Homo sapiens: one gene and its partner. The protein of the gene in region 1 interacts with the protein of each later gene in a biochemical or structural test. Each region holds a gene or a part of one and is shown on either strand. Other genes may lie near its edges. The genes, in order: GNAZ and LRRK1.

Region 1 (3,500 bases):
CGTCCAAAGCATGCTGTGCTGAAGAGGATTCTAAGGCTGTGCTGCAGCCCAGAGGGAAAGAGTCATGGTCGATTAGTGATGTCTGCAGCGGGCACGGGAGGCAGGATTTAGATGAGCTTGCCAGTGACTGGTGAACCTCACCACTGTACCCCCTCCTATCTAGCAGCTTTAACCCACCCTATCTCTCCTTACATGCCCCTTCCTTAGTGACACTGATGCTAACCCCTTATTGGGAAGGACTGGCCTCCGTCTTCCTGAGTCCCATGAGCAGCTCAGGTCATTGCTTGCTGACTGTCTCTTCTCTCATTTGATGCCTCACTCCCTGTAGTGACCTCAGGGTCCAACCCCATGCTTCGTTCATGGCAGCCTCTTTCTGTACACTGAAGAATGAATAAGTGAATGAGTGGTAGAGACTCAACCACTCTACAAGGCCGGGAGCCTCCTCTTGGATGTACACCTGATGTTGATCTCTGTTCCAGCAAGGAGCCCCTAGAAGCCTTCTTGGAATTGGGAGGCTGGATGGCCACGGAAACAAGGTGCTAAACCGTGTGGTTTCAGCTCCAGGTGTTGCAGGAGTGGGGTCAGCAAGGGAGGAGGGGGCAAGGTGACTAAGGAGGGCTGAGGCATGTAAAGTACCAGGCTCTGTGTTTGTGGGGCCCGGTGGTCCTGTCTGACCTTGGCTATGGAGCAGCTAATCAGGCTTCCCCAGAGGCAAAGCTGGGAAAACCTTCCAAGCTGCCAAGAGGGGCCTTCTGAAGACCCTTCTGACTATGGGTGGGAGAACTTGGCACCTACAGCCTTCACCCTGACCCCAGCAGGCCCTGACCCCCTGTGAACTGGTGGTACCTCACCCCTACTCCTCTTGCACCCCCACACTAGTGGCCCTACCCCTAACTGTGGCCAGGCCAGGGGAGGAGCAACTCCACCATGAGGGCTTGGCCCTCATGCCTCCTCCTGCCCAGCTCTGCATGGCATGTCCCTCTGGCCTTAGCTGCCCCAGCTGCATGTGGCCTCAGGCCAGCCCCACCCAGCCCTCTTGCTTCCTGTGGCCCTGTAGAGTGGCTACCAGGACCCCTGCTGGTGAGGGCGGGTGCGGGTGGCCTGTCTCCGAGCTGGGCTTTCCTCCAGCATGGTCACCCCCTCACCCGCTCAGTTACCTCTGATATGCTGTGCAAACATATTTCTCGATGAAATGCTGGGAAGAAAAATAATTAGAGTGTTGCCTCCATTATCCAATTTCGGATTAATCAAACTCTCTTTGTCCTCGGCCAAAATCTATTCATTTCCCTTAAACACTGGGCCAGTGCCAGGCATTGATTTCCTCTATGATAACACCACGCACGCAAGCACAGCCATGCCCAGCCTTGCCCCACCCCGTGGCTGGGACACAGAGGCACTGGTGGGGCTGCCCTTGTCCCCCCAACACTGCCCACCTCCTCCAAGGAGTCTCCTGGCCACACTGACACCCCCATCTCTGTCGTGGCTCCTGGAGTGCTTGGCCTCAGTCTCCAGTGTGTTTGTCTTGCCACGCTGGCTGTTCTGGGGCTCTCCCTCCTCCCAGGATGGTGTGGAATGGATAGAGGAGGTGTGGAGGGTGTGGCCACTGCGGTCCCCAGGGACCACAGGGAATGGGCTGCAGCCCCAGGCTCTGGGTGGGCCAGGGTTTGGGGGATTATCCCCATCACTGGCACAGGAAGAAGGCCAAGGGTGAGGGCCAGGGCTTCTAAGGGGGCTGAGGGGCCATGCAATGTATGTGGGGTGGGAGCACACTTGCAGGGGTAGCAACAGAAGCCCAGCCCCAAAGGGCTTACAAGATGAGGGGACATCCTGGCTCCCGGGCCTGAGGGCTTAGTCGTGGGGCAGCATCAGGATCGGCCAAGTCCAGGTGGGCGGGGGCTGTGCGTCTACCCGTGTCCACCCAGGGAAGGCCACGGGCCTTTCCAGAAGACCTCCCAGAAGTCCCCAACTATCCCCTCCGTGAGCCACGTTGACCGATTCCTCACTCAGTCACTACGAGGGCCTGGGATTGATTTATTGGCACCTGCTTGGTGCTAGGTCCATGTGGGCACATGGGATACATCAATGAACAAACAGACCAACAGTCCCTGCCCTATGGCACAGTGGGAAAGAGGTGGGCGATAAACACTCTAAGTAAATTATACAGTGTGCTAGAAAGGGACCATGCTTGGGGCAAGGCAGCACACGTGGTGTGGCTGTGTGCGAATATGGGGGTCATTTTCCATCGTAAATAGGATGGGCAGGGAGGCCTCCTAAGGAAGGGACATCTGAGCCATTGGATGGGGAGAGGGCGCGGAAGCGAAGTCCACTTGGCTTTCTGGACAAAGAGTTTTCCAGGAGGAAGGAACAGCCAGTGCACAGGCCCTGAGTTAAGAGTGAGGGATGGTGCTAGAGAGGCAGCTAGAGGCAGCATGGCAGGAGTGGGGGAGGGGGAGCATGGGCGTGGGAGTCAGAGAGGCCAGGCATTGCACAGCCCTGGTGCCCTGGCTGGACTTTGACTCGGGGTCTGCCCATGTCAAGCAAGCGTCGGGAGCAAACATGAGAAGGTTTCAAGCACAAGTGAGACATACTCTGCCTCATTTTTACAAGGATGCCCCTGGCTGCTGGTGGAGCACAGGGCACAGGGGGCTGGAGACAGCAAGACCAGAGAAGTCATACTGCTGCAAAACAGATGAGAGGCTGGGGCTGGCTAGCGGGAGTGAGTGGTAGAATTCTGGACAGTCAGGGCAATTAAGGGTTCCCCTGAGGCTGGCTGGGTCCAGCCACAACCTGTGGTGCCAGCCTCAGTTCTCAAGGAAAGGGACGCAGGGAAGGCGTGCTGGGCATGTAGTGGACACCACTCATGCCCCTAGGTCCCCAAGGTAGGGGATGGGATTGTGGGATGCCACACATGGAGGCAGAGGGCAGGAGGTTGCAGGGCCTCAAAGACCCAGAAGGTGAAATCAGATTCCCCACTCAAGTGAGGGTTTGATGGAGTCAGCAGTTTCCTTCCCTGGGGAAACTGGGGAGCCAGGAGCCTGGGGCTACGGCTCTCTCCAAGGCAGCAACCTCTTTGATTTGGCTCTTAATGAAGGCCCCACTTCTTCTCTGCTGTCATGGCCACCCTCTCCTCCATAGGTGGAACCTTTGCATATTGATTTATTTATTTACTCCTGGCCCAGAGAAATATCTGGCTTGATTTCCTCCTGAGTCAGTGTTCCTCAGGCGACACTATCACCCTTTGTCTGGTCAGCCGTGGTGGCTGTGGGCCAAAAGACAGGACAGGTGGCTGAGGGTGTCCAGAGCCAGGACAGCACAGGGTTACAGGGAAGGGCCTCCCTGTTCATCTCATCTCCCCGGTCATCTCATCTCCCCTTCCTTTAGCAGAAGGACACTGGGAGGCCCAGCCGGGGCATAGCCTGGGGTTGTCTGTAGGATGGGGACACTGTGTTCACTAACCGTAGTCCTTCCTCCCATCTGCTCGGACTATGGCTTCAGGATAG
Region 2 (4,016 bases), on another chromosome or scaffold:
TTTACAAATATTTGTCAATCCCTTAGTATGTACCAGGCACTACATGTACAAAGTTCAGAACTTTACGAAATAATGTCATAAAATCCTCACGACAACCTGGCACATGGTACTTTTATTTCCGTTTTATAGCTGAGGAACATGAGGGTAAGAGAAGCCTGGAAACGTGTTCAAGGTCAACAACTCAGAAATCACAGAATTGCCATCTGAACCCTGTCTTAATGCTGCAACACTCATTCTTAAATGCTAGGCCACACTATGGGAGGTGAAAGGGTCAACAGGTTGGGTCTGAGAGGCCCACGTTTGTACCCTTAACCGTGTTAACTAACGATCGGCCACTGTACCTGGCTTGGCAGACACTTTGTTCAGTTGTTTGAGTGTTTTCACTCCATCTGAAATGTCCAGCAGCTGACCAGGGTGATGTTTCTGGAAGGTGTCGTTTCACATCCATCACATTATGAAATGGGAAACGAATTTGCTTCTTGACATTGCCCAGCACTAAATCTTTCCAGAGTGTTCAACTTGCATCTTTGTAAATTTTCTTTTTCTTTGTATTAGACGTGTGTCTTTTTTCAGTTGTGTGGTAGGAAGACCTTGCTCTGTTGGTGTGAGATCGAGGTGGCGTGGGTGATAGAACGCAGTCCCCGATTTGGGGGTAGCACCTCCACCTTTCCAGTGCACGTGAGGCTCCCTTATCCTCCTGCTGCTCCTCTTCGCAGCCCTGAGGGACGAGGGTGGGGACAGGGACCTTGGGTCTGTTTGGGGCCTGTAGGGTAGGTGACTGTGTCATCTGAAAAAGCCCACAGGAGGCGCTGCTCCCTCCCCTCCTGGTCAACAGTTGGTGATCTAAAGGAGTGCTTCTCAACCACGGCCCACACAGTCACTGGGTAGTGGCTCAAACCGGCAGGGCCCTGGCACCACCTGGACCCACTGGAGCAGCATCTTGGGGCAGGGGGGCGGGGAGTGAACAAGCATGGGTAATTTTTTCTTTTTCATTTTCTTTCTTTCTTTTCTTTTTCTTTTCTTTTTTTCTTTTTTTTTTTTTTTTTTTTTTGAGACAGTGTCTTGCTCTGTCACCCAGGCTGGAGTGCAGTAGCATGACCTCAGCTCACTGCAACTTCCACCTCCCAGGTTCAAGTGATTCTCCTGCCTCAGCCTCCTGAGTAGCTGGTACTACAGGCGTGCGCCACCACGCCCAGCTAATTTTTGTATTTTTAGTAGAGACGAAGTTTCACCATGTTGGCCAGGCTGGTCTAGAATTCCTGACCTCAAGTGATCCACCCACCTCAGCCTCCCAAAGGGGTGGGATTACAGGTGTGAGCCACGGCGCCCGGCCAGCATGGCTAATTTTTCAAAGTTCCCTAGTGATTCTAACGTGTAGCTAAAGTTGAGAATCAGGCCATCTAAATGGTTTGAGTCCCATAGAGCAGCACTTCTCAAATTATCAGGTGCACATGTCCCCTGGGGATCCTGATGAAATGCAGAATCTCATTCAGGAGGCCTGGGGCACAGACAGCCTGCGTTTCTAGGTCCCCAGGGATCCCCCGTTGATTCTTACAGGTCCCAGGGACCGGGGCGCAATGGGCTTTGGACAAACCCATCCCCACCTCCAAGCTCGTGGCAGGACAGATAACCAGAAAATGTTAAGGTGTTCCGAAAGGCCAAAGTGTGGCACTCCCCAGCCCCCATGATTCTCCCTAAAGGCCTGCATCTGAGCTTGGCACTGCTCCTTAGGAGGTGTCCTCTCCTGACTCTGCTCTGATGGCCTCTTTCCCCAGTGGGATCTCAGGAATCCCTGCTATCCCTGTTCTGTATAACCCAAGGGACACACACAAGGGCCAAGGACCCTGACGTGACCTCAGCAGCCTTCACTGTGTACTGTTCAAGGAGCTTGAAGTAGGGACAGGACAGGGAAGTGACACCCTGGGAACCCCTGAGAATGAGGGAGGTGTTTGTGCAGTGACCTAATACAGAGAACACAGAGTTGAAGAGGAGAGGAAGATAGCCTGAAACACCCCAGAAAGTTCTGTCCCCTGTTTAGCATTAAGAAAATTATGTTACATGTTAATGAATTACAATAATAACCAAATCCTCATAAGGAATCTGGTGAGAAGCTACTAATTTATACCCATACTCAGAGTTTTAAGGTCCCACAGGTGGTACCAGCAGAACTGAGCCTGTGAGCCCCAGCCCTGGAGCTCACTAACAGAAGTTATTAATTCCAGGGACTAAAGCCTACAGTGCTCCCTCTGTAAAGCCCAATTTTAACGCATTGCATGTTGGATTTCATTTTCGCAGAATATATTAATAAATGTGTACACTAAGACTACAGCCAAGGAGCAGGTAATGCTCAAAGGGTGGCGTGTGGCCACGTCTGTGTGCTGGGATTGCAGTCACTGTGCTTTGCTCATCGGTGCTGTTTATGTTTCCTGCAATATCTACACATTGCTTTTTGTTTTGTTTTGCCTTCTTTTGCATCCAGACGAATAATATTGCAAGTTATTTTTAAATTATTGTTTATTTAAGTACTGATGATTTGTGTTTAGAATCTAAACGGTAAACCTCCTGTGCTTACATCCAAAGTTAGATCTGCCTCCACTGGCCTCTTTGCCTTGAAGTCTTTCTGGAATAAATGCGGAATACTTGACTTACTATGACTGCAGCTGATCCCCCCGCAGGACTCACCCTCTGCACATGTCCCCAGAGCCTAAGCTGGATTTGTCCCATCCCACCTTCTCCTAGACTTCCTGGGATGATAGGGAGCCCTGTTTCCCCTCTCCCACCCCCCAAATCCACCAGCCTCACTCAGGGAACACTGTTCAGGCCTAATTTCCAGCTCCGGCTGAGAAAAGTTGGCCGCCAGAAGGAAAACTAACGACACTCAAAATTATGTAGGGACAGCTTTCTCATGCTTTAAAAATCCTTGGAAGATAACGTGATTGAAAACGACGACGTTCTTATTATACTTCCACGTGTGCGTTAGAAAAAGACCCACACTTTAAAAAAGAGTGTCTACTCTTGGGTGTTGGGGTAATGGTATTTTTAATTTTTTATTTGTGTACTAGGCACGCCTTTTCACACCCCCTACCTGTTGTGACTTGCGTGACCTCAGCTCATGTTTGTTTACAATGGTTAATCCTTTCAAAGCCCCTGGATGTGGGGGGCTTTGCCCAGCTGGTGTGAGGCTGGGGTCTGTGTGTGTCTGCCCTGCCGTGCGGCCCGCTGTGTGTTTGTGCAACACAATTGTGTCCCAGGAAGGTGTGTGACAATCTCAACCTCATTAGCACCAGCAGCAGTCAGCTCGCCTGCGGTGCAAGAGGAATGGTTGGAAAGCTTTGATGGGCGTAGAGTTTGCCAGCTGACAGAGCAGCTGTCAATGAGATGCTGGGCATGGGCTGCAGGACGCGCATTACTTTGACAAACATGTCATTAGATGTTCATTCTTCTGAGTATGTCTGACACCAGCCAGAGTGGAAAAACCAGTCCCGCCAGCCAAGGAGAGCTGTCCTGGAAAGTAGAGAAGTCAGGAAACTTCCACATAATTCAGGTGGAGAATACTTGGGAAGACTTCTGGATTGCGGAGGGTGGGTGGAACTTGAGCAGACATCACCCAGGCAGTGGCTCGCCCCCCCAGCTCTCTGTGAGTGGCCGTCGCTTCGGTCCTGAAAGCCCTGCCACAGTCACACACCTCTCAGAGCACTGCCCACCACCGGACCCAGCATGGACCAAAGGAGGAGAAGGAACATTCCAGAAGTTCTTCAAATCCCAGGTTGTTTCATGGCTACTTCCAATGTCTTGTTTTTTTCTCCTTTGGCTTTTGCGAATCTGTATTTGAAATACAACTCCTTAATATAGGAGCTAAGAGGTTTGCTCAAGTAGGGTCTCTTCCTGCCTTCCAGAAATAGAACTAGGAAATAGATCAAATTAGGAAGAGCCTCTAGGGTGGCAGCCAGCCTTCTTGTCAGGCCACAGCAGGAAAGTCTACGAGGGACAGATCCCCAGTGATGAGCCAGCCCACA

Evidence for each region.
Region 2: the proteins of GNAZ (region 1) and LRRK1 form a complex in vitro, tested with the Homo sapiens proteins (2 studies listed by BioGRID and IntAct, with this or other methods).

What each region holds. Positions count from the first base shown.
Region 1 is NC_000022.11:23,077,019-23,080,518, forward strand, and holds part of GNAZ (guanine nucleotide-binding protein G(z) subunit alpha), read left to right. Parts: intron 1-3,500. UniProt on the Homo sapiens protein: Guanine nucleotide-binding proteins (G proteins) are involved as modulators or transducers in various transmembrane signaling systems.
Region 2 is NC_000015.10:100,925,652-100,929,667, forward strand, and holds part of LRRK1 (leucine-rich repeat serine/threonine-protein kinase 1), read left to right. Parts: intron 1-4,016.